Linked DNA regions of Homo sapiens. The protein of the gene in region 4 interacts with the protein of the main gene of each other region in a pairwise test. Each region holds a gene or a part of one and is shown on either strand. Other genes may lie near its edges. The genes, in order: COL26A1, VPS9D1, ZNF784 and TTC23L.

Region 1 (7,031 bases), on a different chromosome or scaffold from region 4:
CCACCTCAGTCTCCTGAGTAGCTGAGACTACAGGTGTGTTCCACCACACCTGGCTAATTTTTTATTTTTGGTAGAGACGGGGTCTTGCTGTGTTGCCCAGGCTGGTCTTGAACTCCTGAGCTCAAGCAATCCTCCCACCTTGGCCTCCCAAAGTGCTGGGATTACAGGCATGAGCCACCACATCCCATTAGTCCAGCCACTCTGAACTCAGTCCCACTAACTATATGTCAGGCAATAGCTAATGACACTTCCAAGCCTTTACACAGTTGTCTGTCTGCCCAGAATGCCCCAGTCACTGCCTCAAGCTCTCCTGTTCATCCTACAAAACCCACCTCCTATGTTGACTCCTCTGAGAAGTCCTCAACATTTAGTCTCTATCCACTAGAACATTTCCCTAAGTATGTGGTCAGGAACACAATCCTAACAAAATGCTCCCCAGAAGGCCAGGTGCGGTGGCTCACACCTATAATCCCAGCACTTTGGGAGGCCAAGGCAGATGGATCACTTGACGTCAGGAGTTCAAGACCTGGCCAACGTGGAGAAACCCCAGCTCTACTAAAAATACAAAACTTAGCCTGGCATGTTGGTGGGCGCCTGTAATCCCAGCTACTTGGGAGGCTGGGGCAGGACAATCGCTTGAACCCTGGAGGCGGAGGTTGCAGTGAGCCAAGATCGCACCACTGCACTCCAGCCTGGGCAACACAGCCAGACTCCGTCTCAAAAAACAAAATGCTCCCCAGAAAAAGATTCCAAGGCTTCATATATTTGTGGAACTCCCCCGTCCTTGCAACCTTTGCAAGGCATATGAATGCAGTCCACGGTCACATTCATGAACAGAGGGTTTACTATCCTTTTTCCTAAGAACATTATTAATATTAACCCATGTAAGCCCCAGAACAACTTAATGAAGTACTGAAGTCATTCCCATTTTACAGATGAGAAAACTGAGGCACAAAGACTCCCAGGCTCCCACAAACCCTAACTCCCCTAGCTCACTTTGCACACATTTGTATCACACCAAATTCCACTCTTGCTCATGGATCTGTTTTCCCCAACCAGTCTCTGAGCTCATCAAGGACGGAGGCTGGGTCTGAAACATCTCACTGCCCCAGAGACAGGGTCTCACTCTGTCACCCAGGCTGGAGCGCAGTGGTGTAATCATAGCTCACTGCAGCTTCAACTTCCTGGGTTCAAGCGTTCTTCCCACCTTAGCCTCCCAAATACCTGGGACTACAAGTGTGCACCACCATGCCCAACTAATTTTTTAAAGTTTTTTTTTTGCAAAGACAGGGTCTGACTATATTTCCCGGGCTGGTCTCAAACTCCTGGGCTCAAGTGATCCTCCTACCTCAGCTTCCACCAGGACTACAAGTGTGCACCACCACACCCAGCTAATTTTTTAATTTTTTTTTTTTTTACAGAGACAGGGTCTGGCTATGTTGTCCCAGCTGGTCTCAAACTCCTGGGCTCAAGTGATCCTCCCACCTCGGTCTCCCAAAGTGCTGGGATTAAAGGCATGAGGCACCATAGCTAATCACAGTTGCCAATTCTTGAATGTAGGGAACCAGAGAGCAAAGGCAGGGGTCCAACACTGCAGAGGCATGCAATCCAGTCGGAGGGACAAGTCCCCATGGATGTGATCATCCACTTCCCCAGAGTCTGCTGAGCTCTTCCTCCATGCAGGCCACCAGGCACAGCCCCCTGCCTTCACGTTTGAGTCCCCAGCCTCTACCCTACCTACACGTGGGCTCAGTGAATGCAAGGTGATTAAATGCCTGACCTGGAGCGGCTCACATTTCCAAGAGGCAGTGGTGGGTGGTGGGCAGGGCTAAGCTCCAGCTCATGCACGCTTGCCCAAGGACGGCTGCTCAGAGCCACTCCTGTAGGGAGTAAATGAGGAAGGAGAAATGACTCCATCTGCAAGGAGGGAAACTGGGGAAGTGAGTTCTAGAACCAAAACCACAATCACAGATGCAGGGGCTACCCACAAATCACAGGTGCAGGGGCTACCCACAAATGAGATGAACAGAAAGCTGGGAGGTAAATCCAGAGAGACTTCCTGGAGGAAGGGTGCTTGTGGTTCTACCAAAAGAGGGGGGAGTCAAGGTAAGAGGGAGGCATTTTGAGTGAGGAGGGGACACACCAAGCACTTTGGCTTAGACGAAACCACAAGAAAGTGAATTCAGAGACAGAGAGAGTTTGAAGCAGCAGGTATAGATGAAGGAAAGGTGGGCAGGGTGCAGTGGCTCATGCCTGTAATCCCAGCACTTTGGGAGGATGAGGTGGGCAGATAACCTGAGGTCAGGAGTTCGAGACCAGCCTGGCCAACATGACAAAACCCCATCTCTTCTAAAAATACAAAAAATTAGCCAGGCATGGTGGTGCATGCCTGTAATACCAGCTAGTCGGAAGGCTGAGGCAGGAGAATCGCTTCAACCTGGGAAGCGGAGGTTGCAGTGAGCTAAGATCGTGCCACTGCACTCCAGCCTGGGCAACAGAGCCAGACTCCGTCTCAAAAAACAAAAACAAAACAAACAACAACAACAAAACAAACAGTGTGTCAGCTTGATTTTATACTTTTAAATATCTAGCCAAATGGTGAATGGTCTTCATCTTTAGTCTTGCCCCAAGCCCCAAAAAGGTTAGGGGTGGCCAGGACTTGCAGGTGCTATAAGATCAGGGAAGTCTATTCTTACCCCTGAAAGGCCATATCAACCAGCATCATTTAAAATGTCCTCTTCAGGCCAGGCGCGGTGGTTCATGCCTGTAATCCCAGCACTTTGGGAGGCTGAGGCGGGTGGATCACCTGAAGTCGGGAGTTTGAGACCAGCCTGACCAACATGGAGAAACCCATCTCTACAAAAAATACAAAATTAGCCAGGCATGATGGCACATGCCTGTAATCCCAGCTACTACGGAGGCTGAAGCAGGAGAATCGCTTGAACCTGGGAGGCGGAAGTTGCGGTGAGCCGAGATCATGCCATTGCACTCCAGCATGGGCAACAAGAGCGAAACTCCATCTCAAAAAACAAATAAATAAAATAAAATAAAATGGACTCTTCAAAATGTACCCCAAGAAGAAACTGCTGATGGGAATGCAAAATGCTGTAACCCCAGTGGAGGGAAACTTGACGCTATCTAGCAGAATTAAACATGTGTTTGCCATTTACCAACACAAGTGTCTATCAGTAGAGGACTAGCTGAATAAATACAGTCACTCACACTGTACAGAACAACAGACCCATAAAAATGGATGCAGAACTCTACTAAAAAAAAATACAAAAATATTAGCCGGGTGTGGTGGCGGGTGATTATAGTCCCAGCTACTCAGAAGGCTGAGGCAGGAGAATGGCCTGAACCCGGGAGGCAGAGCTTGCAGTGAGCCGAGATTGCGCCACTGCACTCCAGCCTGGGCGACAGAGCGAGACTCTGTCTCAAAAAAAAAAAAAAAAAAAAAAAGATGCAGATTACCTTTGCTTTATTTATTTATTTATTTAAGACTGAGTCTTGCTCTGTCACCCAGGCTGGAGTGCAGTGACGTGATCTCAGCTCACTGCAACCTCCACCTCCTGGGTTCAAGCAATTCTCCTGCCTCAGCCTCCTAAGTAGCTGGGATTACAGGCATGCGCCACCATGCCCAGCTAATTTTTGTATTCTTAGTAGAGAAGGGGTTTCACCATGTTGGCCAGGCTGGTCTCGAACTCCTGACCTCAAGCGATCCACCCACCTTGGCCTCCCAAAGTGCTGGGATGACAGGCGTGAGTCATCATGCCCCCCCATCTTTGCTTTTTGATAGAGCCATCTCCACAACACGTTATGATGGAAAAAGGCCAAGTTGAAGACAGAGTAACTAGCATATTACCTCTGTGTAAGAAAAGGAGGAGGATACAGACACAAACACACACATACTCATACACACTGTTACGCTCACACACACACATACACACACAAATTGCTTACATTTGCAAAAAGAATTTTTTTTTTTGGAAAGAGCCAGATTTTGAGTGAGTTTTTTCTACCTACAAATAGTAAATAAGGGGGAAATTATAAGTATTCTAGCAATTACGAATTTTAAAAAGAGTCAAAATTATAGTACTACTTTGAAGTAGGAGGCGGGACTTGACTCTGGAGGTTGGGGTTGACACCGGACCAAATTGAGGACTAGCTAAAACAGGTTAGGACGAAGCACATCCCCATAAGACTCACTCACCAGGGCACCATGTCAGTTACCATTTGCCAGGGCAACACCCGGAAGTTACCATGCCTTTCCATGGCAACAACCCAACAACCTAGAAGTTACCACCTTCATCCTAGAAATTCCTGCATAAACTGCCCCTTAATTTGCATATAGTTAAAAGTAAGTATAAATAGTGCCAAACTGCCTCTGAGCTGCTAGTCTGGGCACACTGCCTATGGGGTATCCCTGCTCTGCAAGGAGCAGGACCTCTGCTGCAGCTGTACACTGCCACATCAATTAAAGTTGCTGTCTGAAACCACCCACTCACCCTTGAATTCTTTCCTGGGTGAAGCCAAGAACCCTCCTGGCTAAGCCCCAATTTGGGGGCCTGCCTGTCTTGCATCCACTTTGCGATCCTTAATGAAAGAATGACATACGCAATGATCACCAACACCTCAAGCATCACGAGAGAAAAAGAGAGACAACCAGACGTTGTGATTTCCAATGGAAAAACACTACAGCACCCAAGATGTAATTCTGCCAAAATAGAAAACGAAGGAGGAGGAAGAACTAGATCCAACCAAGCTCTTGATCTAATTTCCCATTATCTGGAAATAAAGAGGACAGATGAACATGTTCACAGGCACCATGAGCATATAACCAACAAAATCCTGAAAAAGGAACAATCTAGAAGGCCAAGTTTCTTCAACAAATAAATTGCAACAAAAAGAAGGGAGACAGTGGAGGAGACTTGTAGACAGTGGTGTTCTGCTGAATATTTAACACCCAGCTTTCCAGAATAAAGCCACATCCTTCTGTTAGTCAGCTCAAGGTTGCCGTAACAGAATACCACAGACTGAATGGCTTAAGTAGCAGACATTTATTTCTCATAGCCCTGGAGGCTGGGAAGTCTAAGATCAAGGTGCTGGCAGATTCAGTTCCTGGTGAGGGTTCTCTTTCTGGTTTGCAGACAGCCACCTTCTTGCTGTGCTGTGTCCTCACATGGCAAAGAGAGAGAGCTCTGATTTCTCTTCTTCTTTTTTTTTTTTTTTTTCTTTTTTGAGACAGAGTCTCACTCTGTTGCCCAGGCTGGAGTGCAGTGGCATGATCTCAGCTCATTGTACCCTCCGCCTCCCGGGCTTAAGCGATTTTAGTGCCTCAGCCTCCCAAGTAGCTGGGACTACCGGTGTGCACCACCACGCCCGGCTAATTTTTGTATTTTTAGTAGACACGGGTTTTCACCATGTTGGCCAGACTGGTCTCAAACTCCTGACCTCAGGTGATCCACCCACCTGGGCCTCCCAAAGTGCTGAGATTACAGGCATGAGCCACCGCACCTGGCCTCTCTTCCTGTTCTTATAACATCCCTAATCAAATAATGGGGCACAGCCCTCACAACTTCATCTAAATCTAGTTACCTCCAAAGGTCCCCCCTCCAAATACCACCACATTGGAGGATAGGGCTTCAACATATGAATTTGGTGGGGACACACACATCAGTCCAGAGCATCTCCTGATATAATATGGTAGACTAGACCACCTATGAAGAATTTCTGTCTCTCCCAGCAAGCCCAAATAGAGACCATAAATCTAATCAAACCTTCCAACCTAACTTCCAAAATAGAAGAGATACAGGGGGCAGAGGATCCAATTAATTACACCACTGGGAAGCAATTAGTCAAAACTAGTACGTGGACATTGCAGATCAAGTTAACTACACCACTGGGAAGGAAATAGCTAAATCTAGTACGTGGACATCGCAGAGAACAACTGGTCTTCAACAAGTCAACAGCGTGGAGGAAAAAGTACTCTCTCAAAGGGGGAAGACTTTCCTACACTAAAAGGGAGAGAAAAGACAGAATAACCAATAAGCAGACTTATTTAGATCCTGATTTGAACAAACTAACAATTAAAAACTGCTTTTTGGCCAGGCACAGTGGCTCACACCTGTAATTCCAACACTTCGGGAGGCCAAAGCTGAAGGATTACTTGAAGCCAGGAGTTCAAGACCACCCTGGGCAACATAGCAGGACCCCACCTCTATGAAAAATTTAAAAGTTAGCCAGCCATGGTGGCCCATGCCTATGGTCCCAACTACTTAGGAGGCTGAGGTGGGAGGATTGCTTGAACCCAGGAGGTCGAGGCTGCAGTGAGCTATGATTGCACCATTACGCTCCTGCCTGGGTGACAGAGCAAGACCCTGTCTTTAAAAAAAAAAAAAAAAAAAAAAAAAAAAAAAAAAAAAAAAAAATCAGACGTTAACAAGGAGCAGTAACAATGAAATTAAAGCACTCTTTGTCAAGAAACAGCCCTGTCATCATTGCCTGTCAACTGAAGCCAAGCCCCGGTAAACACACTACTGAAGGCCAAGGCTGCAAGGACCACTGCTGTCCCCAAGCCTTCAGCTTCTGGACATCTTGGATCTCAAGGACAAGGGACACTTGTGATAGATAGCTCATGAGACACAGAAACATGTGACGCCCAAGCCAGCTCCAGCCTGTAACTCACCCAGGCAACAACCAGGTGCCTGCAATGCCCACGCTGGGCTTTCTGGGCAAAGAGACTCAGTCACACTCTGGAATATCAATGTGCCCCAAGCCTCCCCAACACCTTCTGGTATCCTTTTTAGGAATCCATTGCCCACAGATTCATCCACATCCTCCCTAAACCTAATTATATCCTCTCCCTGTTCTTATCCTGGTGGAAAGAGTTCTGGAAGATTCCACACTTGTTTGAGCCTCTTTTTGTTTGTGCTAAAATGATCCCTTCCAAGTTTCTGCAGATGTCCCCAAGTTCCAACCCACCAAATGCCAGAATGAGGTCCCCATTCGCTCCCGCTCTTCATGGTCCTCAC
Region 2 (4,296 bases), on a different chromosome or scaffold from region 4:
CCACCAGCCCTGCCACCTGCCTCCTCATGGCATCTCAAGGTGCCAGGGGTGCCTTTCTTGCAGAAGAGCCCTCCATCCTGATCTGCCCACACCGCCCTGGCAGATGCTGTCCACGCCCGGCAGCCTTCTGTGCACCTCAGAGCATGTGTGTGTCGCCATGCACAGAACGATGATTCCTGAGACCCTCGGGTGACTGCTCTGGGCTCAGGTCCCCAGTGATGACCTGGACCCCAGCCTCACCCCACCCTTCCCACCCACTGATGCCCTGCAGAGCTCTCCTGTCCAAGAGGGTGAAGCCCACACCTGCCTGGCCAGGCACAGCCCCAAGAGGACCCTGCTTCTATGCAGAGGGTCTCGGAGGCTGGCAGATGTTCAAGAGGTTGGGCCAGGCTTGGTTTGGGGCTGGGCTGTGGCTCGTCCCCCACATCCTCAGCGGCCTCTGCCATGGGCAGCAGGGGTGGTTGTGCTGCCTGGCCAGTGGGGTGGGGATTGAGGGAGCCACACGGCGAAGCACAGCAGTGAGCTCTTTATTTTAGGCTGGGTGGGGGCAGCATGTGACAGTCAAGAGGGCTGACCCTTGGGCTGCACGGACCTAGATAAGATGCCCAGGGTCCCGGAATGTTCACAGCCCACAGCCAAGGTGAGTAAGGGGCAGGGAATGTCCTGGGCTCAGAGCCCGAGACCCTGCAGGGGTGTCCCTGCCCATCAGCAAACAGCATACCCTGACACCAGCTGCACCCCAGGCCCCAGCCGGCCCTTGTTCCTGACCCAGACAAGAAACTAGTTCATGGGGCTACAACTCCCCTTCTAGGGGTCAGAGGGGAGAGAAACTGGACTGCCGTCTCCACTGCTGGCCGGCTCATGGCCCCCTCTTCCCTGATGCTCCCCAGGAGCTGCCCCAGCCAGATGTTCATCGCTGAGCCTGCACCCACCGAAGCCCAAAGCTTCCCTTCTTGGCCTCTCTGAGGCCTACACAGGAGAGCAGGGCCTGGTTCCTCCTGGAGCTGATTCAGCCCCATTCTGTCGGGGCAGAGGTGCCAACCCCAAGCTCCAGGGTCAGATGTGAGGTGAGGAAGGTGAAGAGCTGGAGAGCACACCACAGTGGACAAGCCCCCACCATGTGCAGAGCAGCGTGAGGCTCCAGGATGGTCCTCAGTAGATCCCATGGCTCCAGGTGTAGGAGAGACAGCCCTGGGAGGCGAGGCCAGGCCCTGCAGGGACCCTGGGCTCTAGCTGTACTACTTGGCCAGGCCTCCCCGGGGCAGCAGCTCCACGTAGCTCAGGGCACTCTGCAGTGATGTGAGGCAGTAGCCCTCCTCTCCGATCAGGTACCTGCATGGATGGCAGGGGCAGCCGGTGTCATCTGAACGAACAGAAGGATACCCCCGGCCCTCCAGAAGGTAGTGTCTGCCCTCCCAGTTCAGGACCTGGGTGCTGAGGGTGGGCAGGTGGGGCTGTCAGGGCGGCTGGGCTAGAGGAGGCCTTTCCCACCCACTATGTGCTCGTCCTTGGACGGTAGAGCCAGGGATGGCACTGGATCCTTATCCCCTCCCCAGGCAGATGCTGCTCAGGGGACAGCCCCCAGCTCCTGCTGTCTGGGAGAGGCTGAGCTAAGCGAAGGGCCACGGGACATGTGGCAGCAGGCACTCTGCACAGGTGGACCCACAGGGGCTGCCCGAAGGCATGGCTGTGACGGAGCCACACGCTACCCTCCCCAGCTGCTACTGACAACCACCGTTTAGGTTGAGGGATGAGGTCCCTGCTCTTCGCACAGAGACCCCCACCCTGACCCGCCAGGGTCTACCCCTCGTGGATGAACTCCTCCAGGGCCGCGCACTCCGACACCAGCTGAGGGAGGCCGCTCCTCAGCACCACGAAGGACAGGATGGGCAGCAGGTCATCGGCACCACTGTCGGGAGGGCATAGCGGCCTTGGGTTGGGGCCAGGAGCCTCTCACTCCGCAAACCCAGCAGCTGTGGAGCCATCCTGGCCGTGCTGGCCGCCATCTCTGTGCCCTTCTGCGCAGAGGCACCGGAAGGCAGCTGGGCATGGTGAGGCTGTCCCTAAAGGGAGCTCCCGTACTGCGGAGCCAGGGCTGGGCCCACACGGCCCTCCTGCTTCTACAGTGCAGCCAGCTGGCACAAGGCTAAGGGGCAGGAAGATAGTCCCTCCCGTGACCATTGCCTTTCTAGGGCCCTTCCTCCCTGGCCACACCTCGCCCTCCTGGGACTCACATGGCAGCTGCAGCGATGGGCGGGGGCCCGGCCTGGGGTGTGGCCTCTGGGGTGGGGCAGTAGTCTTCCGCACAGACACAGATGATCCGCAGGGTCCGCACTGCGCCCCAGACAGGGTTTCAGGGGCAGTTAACCCCGTCCAGCAGCCTGAGCCACCCCTTATACCCCGCCCACCCACCCACCTCCTGATGTGCACGGCTGGGAAGAGCCACGGTGACCCTGGCGATGTTGCTCAGACACCACTTTTGTTCTGGTCCCCCAACCTCCCCACCGGCACGTGACAAGAGAAGCTCAGTGGTGAAGACACAGGCTCCAGGTCACCTACTGGGATGGGAGCCTGTCCCTCCCCCTGACTCTCGAACCTGCTGACCTATGCACTCCAGCTTCTTCTGGGGGCAGCTCTCCAGGACCAGCAGTCCGAGCTCCTGGGCCGCCGCGCAGTAGGGGTAGCCAGTGGCCCCCTTGGCCTCAGGGTTCTGGGGGAGGAGCTTGGTGGGGATGCCAATGGCGGTGGGGGGTGCATTCCTGTAGAGCTCCATGCTCCTGCTCAGGGCAGCCTCCCGGGCTCGGTGCACGCTCCTGGGGCAGAGAGAGGCCAGGCTAAGCTGCCCCAGGGACCTTGCCCTGGGGACAGAAGCAGGGCTGTGGCTGGAGCTCAGTCCTGGAGAAAACTGGCTATGTATCTCAAGCAAAAAGCCCCAGCGTTGCCAAGACCCCAGGCACGGGAGAGTGGCAATAATCCTACCTGCAAACTGGAAGCCCCTGAGGATGGCCTCAGGGTAAAGCACAGGCTAGGGGGAGCAAACACGAGTCTTGGGGATGGAGGGGAGCAGACAGTGCCAGGGAGCAGGGCAGGCCTCCTGGGGGACTGGGCTGGAAGACACTAGGCCACGCAGGTGGTTGTACAGCTGGGTCCATACCTGTACAGGGCCAGCAGCAGAGGCCACAGCGGGGAGAAAAAGGGTTCCTCAATGCAGGCCAGGCAGCGGTCCTTGGAGGCAGCTGTGTTTAGGCCTTCGAAGGCCAGAAGGGTCAGCGAGAGCAGCCTGTCTGCTAGGAACAGAGCCGGGGACGTCCACAGAGGCTCCTCCCCTGCTGGGTCAAGTGGCTCTAAGCCACGGGGCCTTTCTCCGCCCAAGAAACCTCTTTCCACCGCCTTCAAGCCTCCTGCACCCACCCCTGACCCTCCTCGGCCCAGGGCAGGGAGTCCGGGACTGGAAACGGTCACCTACAGCTGCTGCCCTGTTGGGCCAGCAGCCTGAGAAGAAACCGGAGAATGATCCTTTTCTCAAAAGGGGCTTTACCCAAAACTGCAGGAACCAGGGAAGACTTTAGATCCAACCCCCTGTGGGTGGGGACCCTGACCAAGTTCCTTAGTGTGTGGGCAGCACAGTGAGAATGACGCCTGGACTGTTGGGCCTCCCTCAGTGGTTCTTAGAAAACTCTGGGCTGGGCGCGGTGGCTCATGCTTGTAATCCCAGCACTTTGGGAGGCCGGGGTGGGCAGATCAACTGAGGTCAGGAGTTTGAGAACAGCTTGACCAACATGGTGAAACTCCGTTTCTACCACACTGTTTCCAAAATGAGAAGGGCTGAGGCGTGAGCTGGGTGGATGTAAGTCTGATCAGAGTCTCTGATCAACAGACCCTTCCCCAAACAGAAGCTTGAAACGGACCAATAAGCAGGGGTGAAGAGCTGCGGCGGCTCTCCCAGGGAGGGCCTGGCCTCACCTACGGCATTGTGGATCTCCTCCACCGCGGTCTTCAGCTGCTGCAGCTGGGGCTCCGGCTGTACCCCACGGCCCCGGCCCTGCCGCTCAGACGTCCCCAGGAACTGCTCCAGGTCCTCGAACGAGCTGTCCTTGTCTGGCAATCCAGATGCGGTGTCCCCCAGGGGTGAGGGAGACCCCACGGGGCCGGGTTGGAGTGGGGGCGTGGGGGGACTGTCCTGGGGCCGCGGGGCTGCGCTGGGCTCGGGCGGGGACAGCATGCAATGGAGGCTCTGCGAGGGCCGCAGCCGTCGGCTTCCGGGGTTGGGGGTCGGGGGGCAGCAGCCTGGGGCTG
Region 3 (7,901 bases), on a different chromosome or scaffold from region 4:
TGTGGGAGTCTGGAGCCTGGCCCTCTCCCTCTGCTCTCCATCACTAGCGGCTCACAACCATCCCTGCAGCTGTCATCTCTCCCCCAATCTCCCCTCTTCTGTCCCCTGCCTCCGTTTCCCCACCCCGTCCCCCTCCCCGGGTCGGCCTCGTACCTCCGCCTTAACTAACCCATGTCCCTGGTCTGCAGCCTACTGGTCGGCCTCCACCTTCACCTTCGCGGTCTCCCCCCGCCCCTCCTCCGCAGGGTCCCCTACCCCACACCCGCTCCCCGACCCCTCAGCCGCCGACGAGCCCAGCTGGCCTCCAGAGTCTCCCAGCCCCGGCCCCGGCCCGTGGAAGTGGGTGCGCTGGTGCTTGCGGAAGTTGGAGGAGTTGTTGAAGGTGCGGTCGCAGAGCGTGCAGCGGAACGGGCGCTCGCCAGTGTGGATGCGGGCGTGGCCGCTAAGCACCGAGGACTGGGTGAAGCCCTTGCCGCAGATGCCGCAATGGTATGGCCGCTCGCCAGTGTGCACGCGCTCGTGGTCTCGCATGTCTGAGGAGCGGCGGAAGGGCTTGGCGCAGAACCTGCAGGCAAAAGGCTTCCCCACCGCTGCGCCCGCCGCCGCCGCCGCCATCACCACCTCCGCCCTCTCCGGGGCCACCCCGGGCCTCTGTTCTGCAACGGCCGCTGTGTCCGGAGGCCTCCGAGAGGTGCCCGGCTCCACCCCGTGCCGGTGCTGGTGCCGGAGCAGGGGCGCCAAGGCCTTGAAGGCGCGGGGGCAGAGCGCGCAGCGGTAGGGCCGCTCCCCCGTGTGCAAGCTGTAGTGCGCGCGCAGGCTGGCGGGGCCCGGGCAGCTGTGGCCGCACACGTGGCACCGGCTCGGGTCCCCACCCTGCCCGCCTCCCTCGGCCCCAGCCAAGTGGCCATGTTCGTGGAACAGCAGCTCGGAAACCAGCCGGAAGGCAGCAGGGCACAAGGCACAGTGGAAAGAACCTGGCTCCGGGGGCTCAGGGACCAGCGTGGTGTCCGTCACCTTCACCACCTGGATCTCGATGAGGTCACTCGGGGGTGTGCCAGGCCGGCAGTCATCAGGCACCAGGACCTGGGCAAGAGGAGAAGAAAGAGGAGCCTGTGGAACCTGCCTCAGGACCGCCCCAGCACGCCCCAATTATTAAAGCTTGGGCTCCTCTGTTATTTTCAGACAGGGCCTCACTCTGTTGCCCTGGCGCGATCGTGGCTCATTGCAACCTTGACCTCCTGGGCTCAAGCGATCCTCCCACTTCATCTCCCTGAGTAGCTGGGATTACAGGCATGCACCACCACATCCAGCTAGTTAAAAAAAAATTATTTCTGGCTGGGCACGGTGGCTCAGGCCTGTAATACCAGCACATTGGGAGGCTGAGGTAGGCAGATCACCTGAGGTCAGGAGTTCGAAACCAGCCTGGCCAACATGGCAAATACCGTTTCTACTAAAAATGCAAAAATTAGCCAGGTGTTGTGGCTGCTGCCTGTAATCCCAGCTACTCGGGAGACTAAGACACGAGAATCGCTTGAACCCAGGAGGTGGAGGTTGCAGTGAGATGTGATCATGCCACTGCCCTCCAGCTCAGGCGACAGAACAAGACTCCATCTTAGACAGCAAAACAAACAAAAATTATTATTATTATTTTTAATGTAGAGGGAGTCCCACTATGTTGCCCAGGCTGGTCTCCAACTACTGGGCTCAAGAGATCCTTCTGGCTCTGCCTCCTAAAGTGCTGGGATTGCAGGCGTGAGCCGCCGCGCCCGGCCCATCCTCCAGGATTCTGTTGTATCCTCATCAACATTTCCTCTCCTGTCCAAAATATATCATGGATCCCACCTTTTGTCCTCCACCCTAGTTAAAGCCCCATCACTTGGCGCCTCCAAAATTGAAAAACCCAAGGGCATCTCTGTTCCTATTTCTGCTGGCTTGTAACCCACCTCCCAGGAATAGCCTGAAGGTCTTTTGAAAATGTAAATCAGATCAAGTCATTTTTCGCACTCAAAACCCTCCAGTGGCTCCAAATGACTTATCCCAAATCGTCACTATAATATCTGTGGCGATGTAGCTCCACTTATCTCTCTGACCCCAGCTTAAACATAAGCCGGCACCCAGCTGACTTCTCTCGTCTAAATTTAGCTGCCCCACCCCTACTCTTGGCTCAATTTATAGAAATTGGCTCAATTTTTATTTCCTTTATAGAACATATCACAGTAACTCTCCTTTATTGTCTCTCTCCTCTCAAGAGACTGCAGGCTCCAAAAGAACACAACCCTTGTCTGTCTTGGTCACTTCTCTATTTACAGAGCCGAAGTAGGAGCTCAGTAAATGTTTGTTGAATGAATGAATGTCCTCAATTAGTCTAATTCTGAGTGGGGTAACGTGGAGGAAGTTCCAAAGTCACCTAGACCACCCACTTCTACCCCCAAATTCTCCCTTGGGCATTCGAGAAGCATCACTAAGACCCTTGAAGAATTATCCCCTACCCCGACATAGGTGCTCCAATCATAATCCCCCACGTTTTTCAGGGTCACCTTCCCAACCTTCTACCCTAGAATTAGCCCTAGAATTTATGAGGCCCCGCCCCTTACAAGGCTCCACCCAAATTATGCAAATTATCCCTGGTAAGCCCCCTTCCCTGGACCCAAACCCGTCCCACAAGACAACACCGTCCTCAGACTCCGCCCCCATCCAGGCCCCGCCCACCACCCATAGGTCCCTCCCCCACCCCGCCCACCATGACATAGTCTCCTCCCCTGCCCCGCCCCTCGCGAAACCACAAGAAGCCCCACCCCCAGGGCCATAGCACTAAATACCTCCCTCGCCCACCCCCTCATAGGCCACGCCCCGGACCCGCCCCCCACACTACGACCTCCTCCCACCTCGAGCCCCACGCCCAGGCCCCTTCCTTGCCCGCACCAGGTCCAGTGGCTCCTGGGATCGCGACTCCGGAGTCGGTGAGCTCCGACTCTGGGCCTCTGGGCGCGCAGCGGCCATCTTGTGCCCAAGCCCCGCCCCCAAGGCCAATGTTCGCTCTGAAAGGGGGTGGGGCTCGAACTGGCGTAAGAGCTACTGCGCAGGCGCAGTGCGGGGCTGCGAGGGGGCGTGGTGCAGCAGGGGGCGTGGCGGGGCGGGGCGTGGCGGCTGAGCCCGGGAGAATGTGAGTTGTTCCCTCTCTAATTACCTGTCTGTCCCTCCGAGGGTACGCTCTGTGTGGCGCTAGGATGCCTGTAACACCCTGGGAACAAATCCGAACGTTCCTTCTAAACCAACGCAGGCCGACTCGAGGCTCTGGCTGTCAGGGGAACCTCAGCAGAACTGAAGAAGCTTTGCTTTGTTTCCACGGTAAACGTTTTTGTGATTACCTCTGCACTGCTCATGACAACGTAATGACGCCAAGTTTATAAACGTCGGTGTAGGCCGGGTGCGGTGGCTCATGCCTGTATTCTCAGCTACTCGGGAGGCTGAGGTGGGAGGATCGCTTGAGGCCGGGAGGTCGAGGCTGCAGTGAGCCATGATCTCGCCACTGCATGCAGCCTGAGTGACAGAGACTCTGTCAAAAAAAAAAAAAAAAAAGGCAGTGTGGAGAAAAATATTCAGTAAACAGCAACACAGGTGGTCCTGGGAGGACGCAAAAACCCGCAAGCTGATGTTATGTTTGGGAGGAAAGAGCTCAAAAACGCGGGGTTTTCAGCAGCATCAAGGACGGGGCTCTTCTTAGCTGCCCCGTTTAGTCATTCTGGTGGTATCACCTTGGATAAGTCACTACACTTCTCTGGACCATTTCTCTTTCTTTTGTGTAGCACTGTAGAAGCATTGTGACAAACCACTGAGAAGAGACATGGAAGAGTTTGGAAACATCTTTAAATAGTTTTCTTGAAAGGGCAGGATAGGAGATACTTAAACATGATCCTAAGCATGATCATTTCATTCATAAATATATATGAAATTATATTTTGTGATATGTTGGTATAAAATAAAGATAAACACCACTTAGGCTGAATTATCTCCTCCTCCTCCTTTCTTCTTCTTTTATAGAGATGGGGATCTTGCTGTCTTGCCTTGCCCAGGCTGGTCTTGAACTCCTAGCCTTAAGCGATCCTTCTGCCTTGGTCTTCCAAAGCTATATTTCCCTTCTTTTCTTTTGATTTTAAAATAATTTTTTTTTTTTTGAGATGGAGTCTCACTCTGTCGCCCAGGCTGGAGTGCAGTGGCATGATCATGGCTCACTGCAACCTCTGCCTCCCGGGCTCAAGCGATTCTCCTGCCTCAGCCTCTTGAGTAGCTGGGATTACAGGTGCCCGCCACCATGCCCGGCTAATTTTTGTATTTTTAGTATATACAGGGTCTCACCATGTTGGCCAGGCTGGTCTCGAACTCCTGACCTCAGGTGATCCGCCCACCTCGGCCTCCCAAAGTGCTGGGATTACAGGTGTGAGCCACTGCGCCCGGCCTAAAATAAATTTTTAAATGTTGTGGGTCCCTAAGAGTATCATGGGCCCTAGGCACTGTATCTACTACTGTGTCTAATGCTTAAGTCAGCTCTTTCTGTCCAGGTTTCCTAATTTGCAAAATGAGGGTGATAATAAAACCTACTTTACACAGTTGCTATGATGATTAAAGAAGTCATTATATATAAAGTATTTTGGACAATGTATGGCACACAGCAGGTGCTATGAGTTAGCTATAATAATTACTACCATTTGGCACTCCCACTAGCAATAAATAGGGACCTTTGTTGCTTAACATTCCTATCAATATCTGATACTCAAACTTTAAAATGTTCGCTAATCTCTTGGGTGTGAAATAATTTCATTTCTTTTCTTTTTTTTGAGAAACAGCCCAGGCTGGAGTGCAGTGGCGTGATCTCAGCTCACTGCAACCTCCACCTCCTTGGTTCAAACAAATTTCCTGCCTCAGCTTCCCAAGTAGCTGGGACTACAGGTGTGACACGTCATTACGTTATCGCAAGTGGTGCAGAGGTAACCACAAAAACCTTTACTGTGGAAACAAAGCAAAGCCTCTTCAGTTCCGCTGAGGTCTTCCACTGACTGCTAGAGCCTCGAGTCGGCCTGCGTTGGTTTAGAAGGAACGTTCGGATTTGTTCCCAGGGTGTTACAGCCCAGCTGATTTTTGTATTTTTGTTTTGTTTTGTTTTTTGTTTTTAGTAGAGACAGGGTTTCACCATATGTTGGCCAGGCAGGTCTCAAACTCCTGACCTCAGCTGATCGGCCCGCCTCGGCCTCCCAAAGTGCTGGGATTACAGGCATGAGCCACTGCGCCTGGTCTATTTCTTATTGAGAAGCTCTTTATTAAAAGAGATCATTCATAGCACCCAGAACTCATCCTCCAGTTTCCCTTTTTTGAGAGCTGGAAGTATGTCATCTCTGTATCCCCTCTGTACATCCCTATAGAGAAGGCATGTATATGGCTCAGTGAGTGTTTGGTGAATGAATGAGTGAGAAATTGAATTCATGCAGATAGAAGAACTTTGTACCAGAGCTTAAGGCTATTGAGTATTTTTTCCCTTTTTTTTCCTCCCCACCCCCACTAAAGCTATTAAATATTTGCAGAGGAGAGCACTGTTTAGTGGAATTACCATAAGCTTTCAAATCAGGCAAACCTGGGTCCAGATCCGTTTATCTGCTTGCTGTGCAACTCTGGGCAAGCAATGTCTCCTCTAAGTGTCTAGCTGACATCTACAAAGTGGGCACCATAATGTCATTTGGCAGGGTTGTAGTTAGAATGCCACTGATTGAGAATGCCAAAGGTCTGTGTGATGCCTGGAACCAACTGGTGCTCAATAAATGTGGGTTCTGCCTGGGCTTGGTATTCTCTACTAAGAATACAAAAATTAACATGCACAGTGGAGCACGCCTGTAGTCCCAGGAACTTGGGGAGCTGAGGCAGGAGGATTGCTTGAGCTTGGGAAGTTGAGGCTGCAGTGAGCCAAGATCACACCACTGCACTCTGGCCTGGGTGATAAAGTGAGACCCTGTCTCAACAAATAAATAAACATAAAATAAAATAAATATAAAATTTTAAAATTTAAAAATGAATCTGGGTTCCTTGCCTTTTCACCTGTTGTCTGGCTTCTGAGTCCCTCGGTACCTGGCATAACACTAACAGGCTATTGCATGACTTGAGGCTAGAAGCCCTGCTACACGGAGCCATTAGACAATTGCAAGAAGATTTTAGCCGGGCGTGGTGGTGGGCGCCTGTAATCCCAGCTACTCGGGAGGATGAGGCAGGAGAATTGCTTGAACTGGAGAGGCGGAGGTTGCGGTGAGCCAAGATTGCACCACTGCACTCCAGCCTGGGAGACAGAGCAAGACTCCATCTTAAAATAAAAAAATAAAAAAATAAAAGAAAATGCCAGGAAGAGTCTTGGACTTGGAATCAGATTTGCCTCGCTTCTCTCCATCTCTATCTTCCTGTAAAACCTGAGCACTTCACTTCTCCTCACGGAGCCTAGATTTCCTGCCTTTTAAAAGAAATTGGCTGATAGAATTAGCTAGATGGCTCTGCAGTTCCTCTCCCTTTCATTTTTCTATGTGCCCAAGAAAACTGAAAATATACATTCACACAGAAACTTGTAAACAAATGCTATTCATAACAGCCAAAAAGCAGAAACAGCCCAGATGTCCATAAACATAAACAACATGTGGTATATCCATAGAGTGGAATATTATTTGGCCATAAATGAATAAAATACTGATCCACATGACAACATGGATGAACCTTTAAAGCATTATGCTAACTTAGAGGCTGGGAAGGGTGTGTGGTGGAAGGAGGGATGAATGAAGGTTGGTTAATGGGTACCAACATAGTTACAGAGAAGACATACTTTTTTTTTTTTTTTTTTGAGATGGAGTTTCGCTCTTGTTGCCCAGGCCGGAGTGCAGTGGCTCGATCGCGGTTCACTGCAACCTCTGCCTCCCGGGTTCAAGCGATTCTCCTGCCTCAGCCTCCTGAGTAGCTGGGATTATAGGTGCCCACCACCACGCCCAGCTAATTTTTGTGTTTTTAGTAGAGATGGGGTTTCACCATGTTGGCCAGGCTGGTCTAGAACTCCTGACCTGGTGATCTACCCGCCTTGGCCTCCCAAAGTCCTGGGATTACAGGTGTGAGCCACCACGCCCAGTCCGTGTATTTCAAAGTAGCTAGGAGAGAGCACTTGCAATGTTCCCAACACATAGAAATGATAAACACTCAAGATGGTGGTTACCCCAAATGCCCCGATTTGATTTGATCATTACACATTCTATGCGTGTAACAAATACATGTACCCCAAACTCTGTAAAATATTATGTGTCAATAAAATAAAATTTAAAAATATATTAAGTGAAAGAAGCCAGGCACAAAGGACCACATATTATTAAGATTCTATTAACACCAGAATAGGGAAATCTATAGAGGCAGAGTGTAGCTTTGTGGTTCCTTAGGTTGGGTGGGGATAGAGAGTTGGGGGGAAGGAAGAATAGAGGAGTGATACCTAAAGGGCATGGGATCTCTTTTTGAGGTGATGAAAGTGTTCTAACGTTGACTATCATGATATGTGCACACAACTATGAATATACTGACTATTGAATTATACACTTTAAATGGGTGAATTGGGTGGGGTTCAGTGGCTTCCGCCTCTAATTCTAGCACTTTAGGAGGCAGAGGCAGGAGGATCCCTTGAGCCCAGCAGTTCCAGACCAGCCTGGGCAACACATCATGACAGCCATCTCTACCAAAAACCAAACAAACAAACAAAAACAAAAAACAAAAACAAAAAAAGCCCGGTGTAGTGGTGCATGCCTGTAGTCCCAGCTACTTAGCAGGCTGAGGTGGGAGGATTTCCTGAGCCCAGGCGGTTGAGGCTGCAGTGAGCCATGACCGTGCCATTGCAATCC
Region 4 (7,031 bases):
TTCCTTCTTCATACATTAGCTGGAATAATTCTGTAAGGAGAATTTCTCCTCCTCCACTCTTTGGTTACCCAATAGTACAGTTCATGTTGGAAAGGCAGGACACATGGTTTATTCTTGCCCTTTACTAGCTTTCAGAAAAATGAATTGTTCACTAGCATCCTCTAATTGTGATCAAATAGCTTGTTATTATTATTAGAAACTTATGGATTTTAAAACGTATTTTATGTGTTTATATCTTAAGATATAAATTAGATCATGACTTTCCTGTTCAAAATCCTCCAACAGCTTCCCGCTTTTTCTTCTTAATATAATTCAAAGTCCTCACCATGGCTTCCAAGGCTCTGCATAATCTGACCCAATGCCAATCACCTCTGGACTTCATTTTCTACCACCCTTTCCTCCTACTCTGTCTGCTAGAACTACACTGACCAGCGGTTCCTGAACATCACCAGCTAACTTCCAATGTAGGGCTGTGCACGTGCTGCTCCCACTGCTTGGGACACTCTTCCATGTCATTCACTTTCTCATTTCATTTTCACTTTTCTTATCAACAGGCCTTTTTTGGCCACCTTATCTAAAATAGACACCACTTCATCACTCAATATCCCATTACCTATTTTACTTTTTCTTCATAGTACTTACTTCTATCTAATATTTTATTAGCTATTACTATTGTTTGTCTATTATCTCCCCAAATAGAAGATAAGTCCCTTGAGGACAGAAGTTTATTCCTCATGTTCGCTGTTATCTGCCCAGTACACACAGGTGTAACACATTCAATATTTGCTGAATGAATCATTTATTAGCAAGGTTAAAGATGGGTTGGGGAAAATAATCCTCTACCCCTATAGAAATGACAGGTAGAGCTCTCTAAGAAATCACCGAACTGTATCTTCAAGTCATATATTTCAGTGACTTTACAAACACAGCCATTATTGGCTGAACGAGTCGATAGGGTCAGGCATTTTTTTCCTGGTTAAGTGAAAATAGCACTTCAAGGAACCAAAAACCTAAAGTTTCAGCCCTGGTTCTAATGTTTGTTTACTGATTGTGTTGCTTTGGGGCAGGCCACTTTGATCTCAGCTTCCTTTTCTGAGGTTTGGAAACCTGTACCATCTACCTCATGGAGTTACTGTAAGGAAAAAAAAATAGTGTCCAAATGATTCAGTGTTGTTAGGTCAGATCTAAGTGTAACCCGTTTGAAGAATAATGTACAGGTAACCAAAGTAACCCATTTAAAGAGTAATGTTAGATAAGATACAGCAGTACCATAGGTTATTCCAAGGAATACACTCCTTACTGATTCCTATCTCCTACCCAACTTCATGTTTTACCTGCCCCCTGCTCAAATATACAGAAGCAAGCAATGGTAGAAGGAAACTTCCCCTGATGCTTCCAAAACATCCATTTAGTCAGCATTTTTTAGAGTTCACCATGGGCTGACCACAGCAAATACTAAGTTCTCTTTCGAGGAAGAAGCATCATGCCATGAAAAAATCACTGGAATGGGAGACCAAAGCTTTGGCTCTGGACATTGTATATTCATCCTCGAACTCCTTGACTTGGAGAAACCGGGACAACCAATACGGGCTCCAGATGTCATCCCAGCACTTCTGCTGCTGATGTGGCATCCCCTGCCCTTCAGGGCTAGGAGTACTAGGTTGGGTTTGATTTAAAAAAAAAAAAAAAAAACAGCGTTATTGAGCTATAACTGATATACAAAGAACTGCACCTGTTCACTTTATACAATTTGATGAGCTTGGGATTTGAGTCAGATTTCTCTCCTAAGATCTAAATCTTTGTCATTATCCAATCTGGCCAAGGAGTTTTTAAGCCTTGAAAACCCCCACTTACACTCCATGGCAGATGGTACTTGTGTGTTTTTAGAAATGATCCTTCTAGCCTGGATTTGTGAATCACTAATGGGTCCAGGCCAGGATGACTGTCCTTTGCAAGGTCCTTGGGTCATTTACAGAGATAAATTTACAAATATCCATCTAGAGAGATACTTCAGAGGCAAATGATAGAAAATGAAACCTCTCTAGATTACTTTTTTCCCCTTGGCTAGGAGGAGCCAGGAAGTCAAGGTACAAGCTCTTCTGTTGATAAATCATGCTCTGGAAGCAGGCTGGTGCCTGTGTTCTAATAATGAGAGTCGACGTCTTGCTGTCTCAGTCTCCTGGATTTTGAATACTCATGCTTACAAACCTGCTCTGAGATCTTTGACTCAAGTCTTTGACTTGCTCTTAGAAATGCATATTTGGAATCTTTGACCTCCACTGCTACCTTCTGTTTCTGGCCCTTTGGTTTGTTTATGATTCCACTGTAACCAAGGGCATCTTACCCATATCCTTTCCAGGCCAGAGCTTAGACCTGCCTGCCTACCTGTTCTCAACCTCCTGCCTTACTATCCCAGCCTTTTTGTTACCTAAGAGATAGCATCCTGAAACCTTCCAGGATGGATACACACACACACACACACACACACACACACACACACACACATACACACATATATGTATTTGTATATATACGTATATATGTATATGTGTGTGTATATATATGTGTGTGTATATATATATATATATATATATATTTTTTTTTTTTTTTTGAGACAGAGTCTAGCTGTTGTCGGCCCGGGCTGGAGTGCAATGGCATGATCTCAGCTCACTGCAACCTCTGCCTCCTGGGTTCCAGCAATTCTCCTGCCTCAGCCTCCCAAGTAGCTGGGATTACAGGCATGCGCCACCACGCCTGGCTAATTTTTGTATTTTTAGTAGAGATGGGGTTTCACCATGTTGGCCAGGCTGGTCTTGAACTCCTGACATCAGGTGATCTGCCCACCTTGGCCTCCCAAAGTGCTGGGATTACAGGTGTGAGCCACCACGCCCAGCTATTTTTTTTTTTAATTTTAAGTTAAAGGTAACAGCAACAAAAACAATCAAATGATAATTTTTAGGTTTTTCAAATTTTTACTTTATTTTCTTAGAGACACAGTCTCATTCTGTTACCCAGGCTGGAGTGCAGTTGCACAATCACGGGCTCCCTGTGGCCTCAATTTCCTGGGCACAAGCTGCTATCCTGTCTCAGCTTCCCAAGTAGATGGGACTACAGGCTCCCTCCACCATGCCTGGCTGATTTTTAATTTTTTTTGTAGAGACAGGGTCTCACTATGTTACTCACGCTGGCCTCAAGAGATCCTCCCGCCTCGGTTTTCCAAGGTGTTGGGATTACACGCATGAGCCACTGCACCTGGCCTAATTTTTAGTTTAAAGCTAGGACCAGAAATGCCCCAAGGAGGAACAGACAATGAACCATGCATGGAACCAGAAGGTGGGCTGGCTACCTAAGTAGGCTCTGCTTTGTTTTCTGCTACTTACAAAGAAATATGACACCTTCCTCTATTTCATATGCTTCAATCTGCATCGAAGGCAAAGCTTCTCTAAACAGGAACATATTTTTAAATGGAAACAAAATTTTAGTGAGTTTTTTGTTTTACCATTTTTTCCTTAATCAGCTGAGCTACTTTCTTCTGGGATTGGGCTAATTTCTCTTTGGGATGAGACATACAGTCTATGGCCTTCTCCTTCTCTTTAGCTTTAGTTTCCTCTTCACTCTCTCCACACCCACCAGTGGGATACAACTCATCTGTTTGCTGGTGAGCTGGGATCTCGGTTTGCTGTGACCTGTAGGTATGAGAGAGGCAAGGATTCAGGATTTAACCTTCTCCATCTCAAACAAGGTAAAATTGAAGGGCATAGCTCTCCCAACTAGGGGATAGGGACATGATTTCTAACATAAACCGGAAGGAATAAAGCTAGGCAGTAAACTCACGTCGCCCTCAAAGCCTAGCATTAAGACAGCAATGTGGTAGTTCAGAAGAAGCCGATTTATAGAGGTACAGCTCTGCTGCTTACTAATCACATGACCCTAACCAAGTTATTAATTTACTTCTCTGTAAAATGAGAATATGGATGCCTACTTGATGAGGTTATGGGATTAAATGAGATAATACTCATAAATCAGCACAGTGTGTGACATTCACTAAGTGTTCCTTTCATGTTAGCTATTAGTATATCATTAGCTCCAGGACAGGGCTTCTTCTTCTACAAATGAGGGTGTTGAACTGGAGGATCCCCAGGAATATCTGTGTTCTAAAATTCTGATCCAAGCAAGGAAAGAAAATGGATACAATGAAATAAGGGAAAGGAAACCAACATTTTGAGGCTGGACTTTGCATGTCTTCTCATATCTTAAAAGCTTCAACATGTGGTGGCCAAGAAAAGAGGACACGGGTCCCACCAGAGACAGGGAGGGAACCCCACGCTACATCAAGTGCAGATTCAGAGGAGAAATATCCCTAGTTGTGTTAAAAAGAACTATATCCTAACATCACCAGAAAAATCAATAAAGTGCTACAGAAGAAACAGAATTTTGAGATCTTAGGAGCAACGGTAGAAATTTTAAGTATAAATAAGTCTCCCAAAGGACTCATCTTTATACTCACAATAACTCAAAAGTTCAGCCACTGAGTAGTTTTTAAAATAAAATTTACTTTTCTTTTCCACTGATTGCTTAAATAGTGAATGTTCAATGTTTAAATAAAAAGAAAATTCAGAAAAGCACAAAAAGCTTAAAGAGTGAATGTTCAATGTTTAAATAAAAAAAAAATCAGAAAAGCACAAGAAGAAAATAACTGCCAAGTGTAACCTTTTTTTTTTTTTTTTTGCTGCTGCTGCTCACTCTTTGGGTCTGTGCCACCTTTAAGAGCTGTATGCCAACTGTAATCTTTTACACCAGGTTTGAAAAATGACATGCTAATATCCTTCTAGAGTTCTATTCTAATTAACTTATCAAGAGGCACGTGGGCAAACCAGGTTGTGTAGATAGGGAAGCAACATTTCTTGAGGCCCAAGCGCAGGCAGGCTTGCCTTCTGCCCACAGACGAGTGTGCTTTCAGTAGACAAGCTAATTTGATGGGACAGCCAGGGAAGGTTGGGGATGTGACCTGATCAGAAGACAGGTGATGAACTTCCTTTTCTCTGCCTGGTGAATTCCATACTCCTCCTTCGAGACACAACTCAGATGTCATCATTCCTGGAAGTCTTTCACTGGAGTAGCAATAAAGGCAGCCTCCAAAGGGCTTTCAAAAATTTCCCCCAAACTGCTAGTACACTGTGATTTTTTTTTATTGTTGTTTGATTTTTTTATTGTTGTTTCTTTGGTTTGTTTCTGAGTCTTCTTTGCCTGCTGGCAAAGTAAACTCCAATACGGCAGGGGCTGAGCCTCATTTGTTTCTGAAAACCTGATATCTGGCTCATAGTAAAAACAAATAATGGCCTGTTAAATGATGAATAAATGAATGAGAAAAGAATGTGCAGTCTTTAGAATGTTTGAAAAATATTGAGGAGAGAGGAAATCTGTGGCAAGAGATCATAAGTCGGCTGACTCTGGGCATGCTGCCTATGAGCTAGCCCTGTTCTGCAAGGGGCAGTTAAAAAAAAAAGAGATCATATCTCAATAGCAAATTTTGCTTAAGCTGCATATTTCACAGACCTAGAGCAGAAGTTAAATCTATTGGAGTCACCAGATTGCTAATTATGGATAGTAAAAATTATAAGCCCGAAATATTTTAAATTAAGCCTTGAATAACATTAAGGTAAGACCAAAGGTGGCAAGCTTCAACCTCAGGGACTTCAAAGGAATGAGAAACATTGAGGTCTTGACAAATGATTTGAGAATGTAAATCCCTGAACTAGCTTTGAACATCATGTTATAGAAGGTGAGAAAGATGGCTGGAGAATCCTGACCAGTCAGACATCTCAAAGGATGGTCAGAATAAAAAGAATAGGAGGTTGAATGGAAGGTCTGCCTTGCCAGGTTTATAATTGATTCCATATGTTACCATCATGAATAGGAATTCTGATTAGTAATGTTCGATATAAATTATCCGATTATTTCCCAGATATTTTACTGTGAACTTGACATTTTTATGAACTTCAATTTTTATAGTCATATAACCCTTAACCTTAAGATATTTTATGAATTTAAACTTATGCTATCCAGGCCAGGCACAGTGGCTCACACCTCTAATCCCAGCACTCTGGAAGGCCGAGGTGCATGGATCACTTGCGGTCAGGAGTTCGAGACCAGCCTGGCCAACATGGTGGAACCCTGTATCTCCTAAAAAATACCACAGTGAGACTGTAATCCCAGCTACTCAGGAGGCTGAGGCATGAGAATGGCTTGAACCTAGGAGGCGAAGGGTGCAGTGAGCTGAGATCACACCACTGCGCTCCAGCCTGGGTGACAGAGCAAGACTCTGTGCTGGGAGCCGAAGGCCCATGGGATGTGACCAACTCAGCATTCCACTGGAGACGATATGATCAAACAGCAAACTGTTTATCATGAATGCAGGATGTGAGCAAACTCACGAGTGCTCCTGCCGACAGAGGGTTTGCTGGAGGCAATCACTCCCTAGCGCTGAGGTTATCTACTGTGACATCTAGAGCCTGTTGTTTGAGGAATGAAGTCTTGCAAGCCTACTCTGGACTAAGCAGCTGACCCCTTCTTCCACCCCCCTTCTCACCATCTCTTTTGCCTAATAAATACAGAGGGCTGTGTACAGCTCAGGGCCTTCGTCCACTAGAGGCAAGGTGCCCCCTGACCCCTTCTTCCAAGTATACTCTTTTGTCTCTTGTCTTTTATTCCCACATTCACCCCTCCTTTGTTCAGTCCACCAGGGATTGTGGCAGGTTACATAGGGGCCCCCCAAACAGCAACAGAATCTGGTGCTCCACAACTCTGTCTCAAAAAAAAAAAAATGCTATCCAACTTGGTAACTACTAGCCACATGTGGCTATCAAGCACATGAAATATTGCTGGTCTGAATTAAGATGTGCTGTAAATGTAAAATATGTGCTGTATTTTAAAGAGTATAAAAAGATAAAATATTTCATTAATAATTTTAGCATATTTTGTATATATTGAAATAAAATATAGTATTGAAATTAAATTCATGTGTTTCATTT

What was found.
Region 1: the proteins of TTC23L (region 4) and COL26A1 interact in binary tests that used the Homo sapiens proteins (3 or more experiments, as listed by UniProt).
Region 2: the proteins of TTC23L (region 4) and VPS9D1 interact in binary tests that used the Homo sapiens proteins (3 or more experiments, as listed by UniProt).
Region 3: the proteins of TTC23L (region 4) and ZNF784 interact in binary tests that used the Homo sapiens proteins (3 or more experiments, as listed by UniProt).

Annotation. Positions count from the first base shown.
Region 1 is NC_000007.14:101,365,872-101,372,902, reverse strand, and holds part of COL26A1 (collagen alpha-1(XXVI) chain isoform 1 precursor), read right to left. Parts: intron 1-7,031.
Region 2 is NC_000016.10:89,706,623-89,710,918, forward strand, and holds the end of VPS9D1 (VPS9 domain-containing protein 1), read right to left. Parts: coding exon 3,964-4,296; intron 3,327-3,963; coding exon of another isoform or gene 3,285-3,326; coding exon 3,155-3,284; intron 2,814-3,154; coding exon 2,605-2,813; intron 2,335-2,604; coding exon 2,235-2,334; intron 1,910-2,234; coding exon 1,805-1,909; intron 1,333-1,804; coding exon 1,239-1,332; 3' UTR 512-1,238; downstream 1-511.
Region 3 is NC_000019.10:55,621,562-55,629,462, forward strand, and holds the start of ZNF784 (zinc finger protein 784), read right to left. Parts: upstream 3,006-7,901; 5' UTR 3,001-3,005; coding exon 2,923-3,000; intron 1,084-2,922; coding exon 190-1,083; 3' UTR 1-189. UniProt on the Homo sapiens protein: May be involved in transcriptional regulation.
Region 4 is NC_000005.10:34,842,142-34,849,172, reverse strand, and holds part of TTC23L (tetratricopeptide repeat protein 23-like), read right to left. Parts: intron 7,016-7,031; exon of another isoform or gene 6,067-7,015; intron 3,687-6,066; coding exon 3,500-3,686; intron 1-3,499.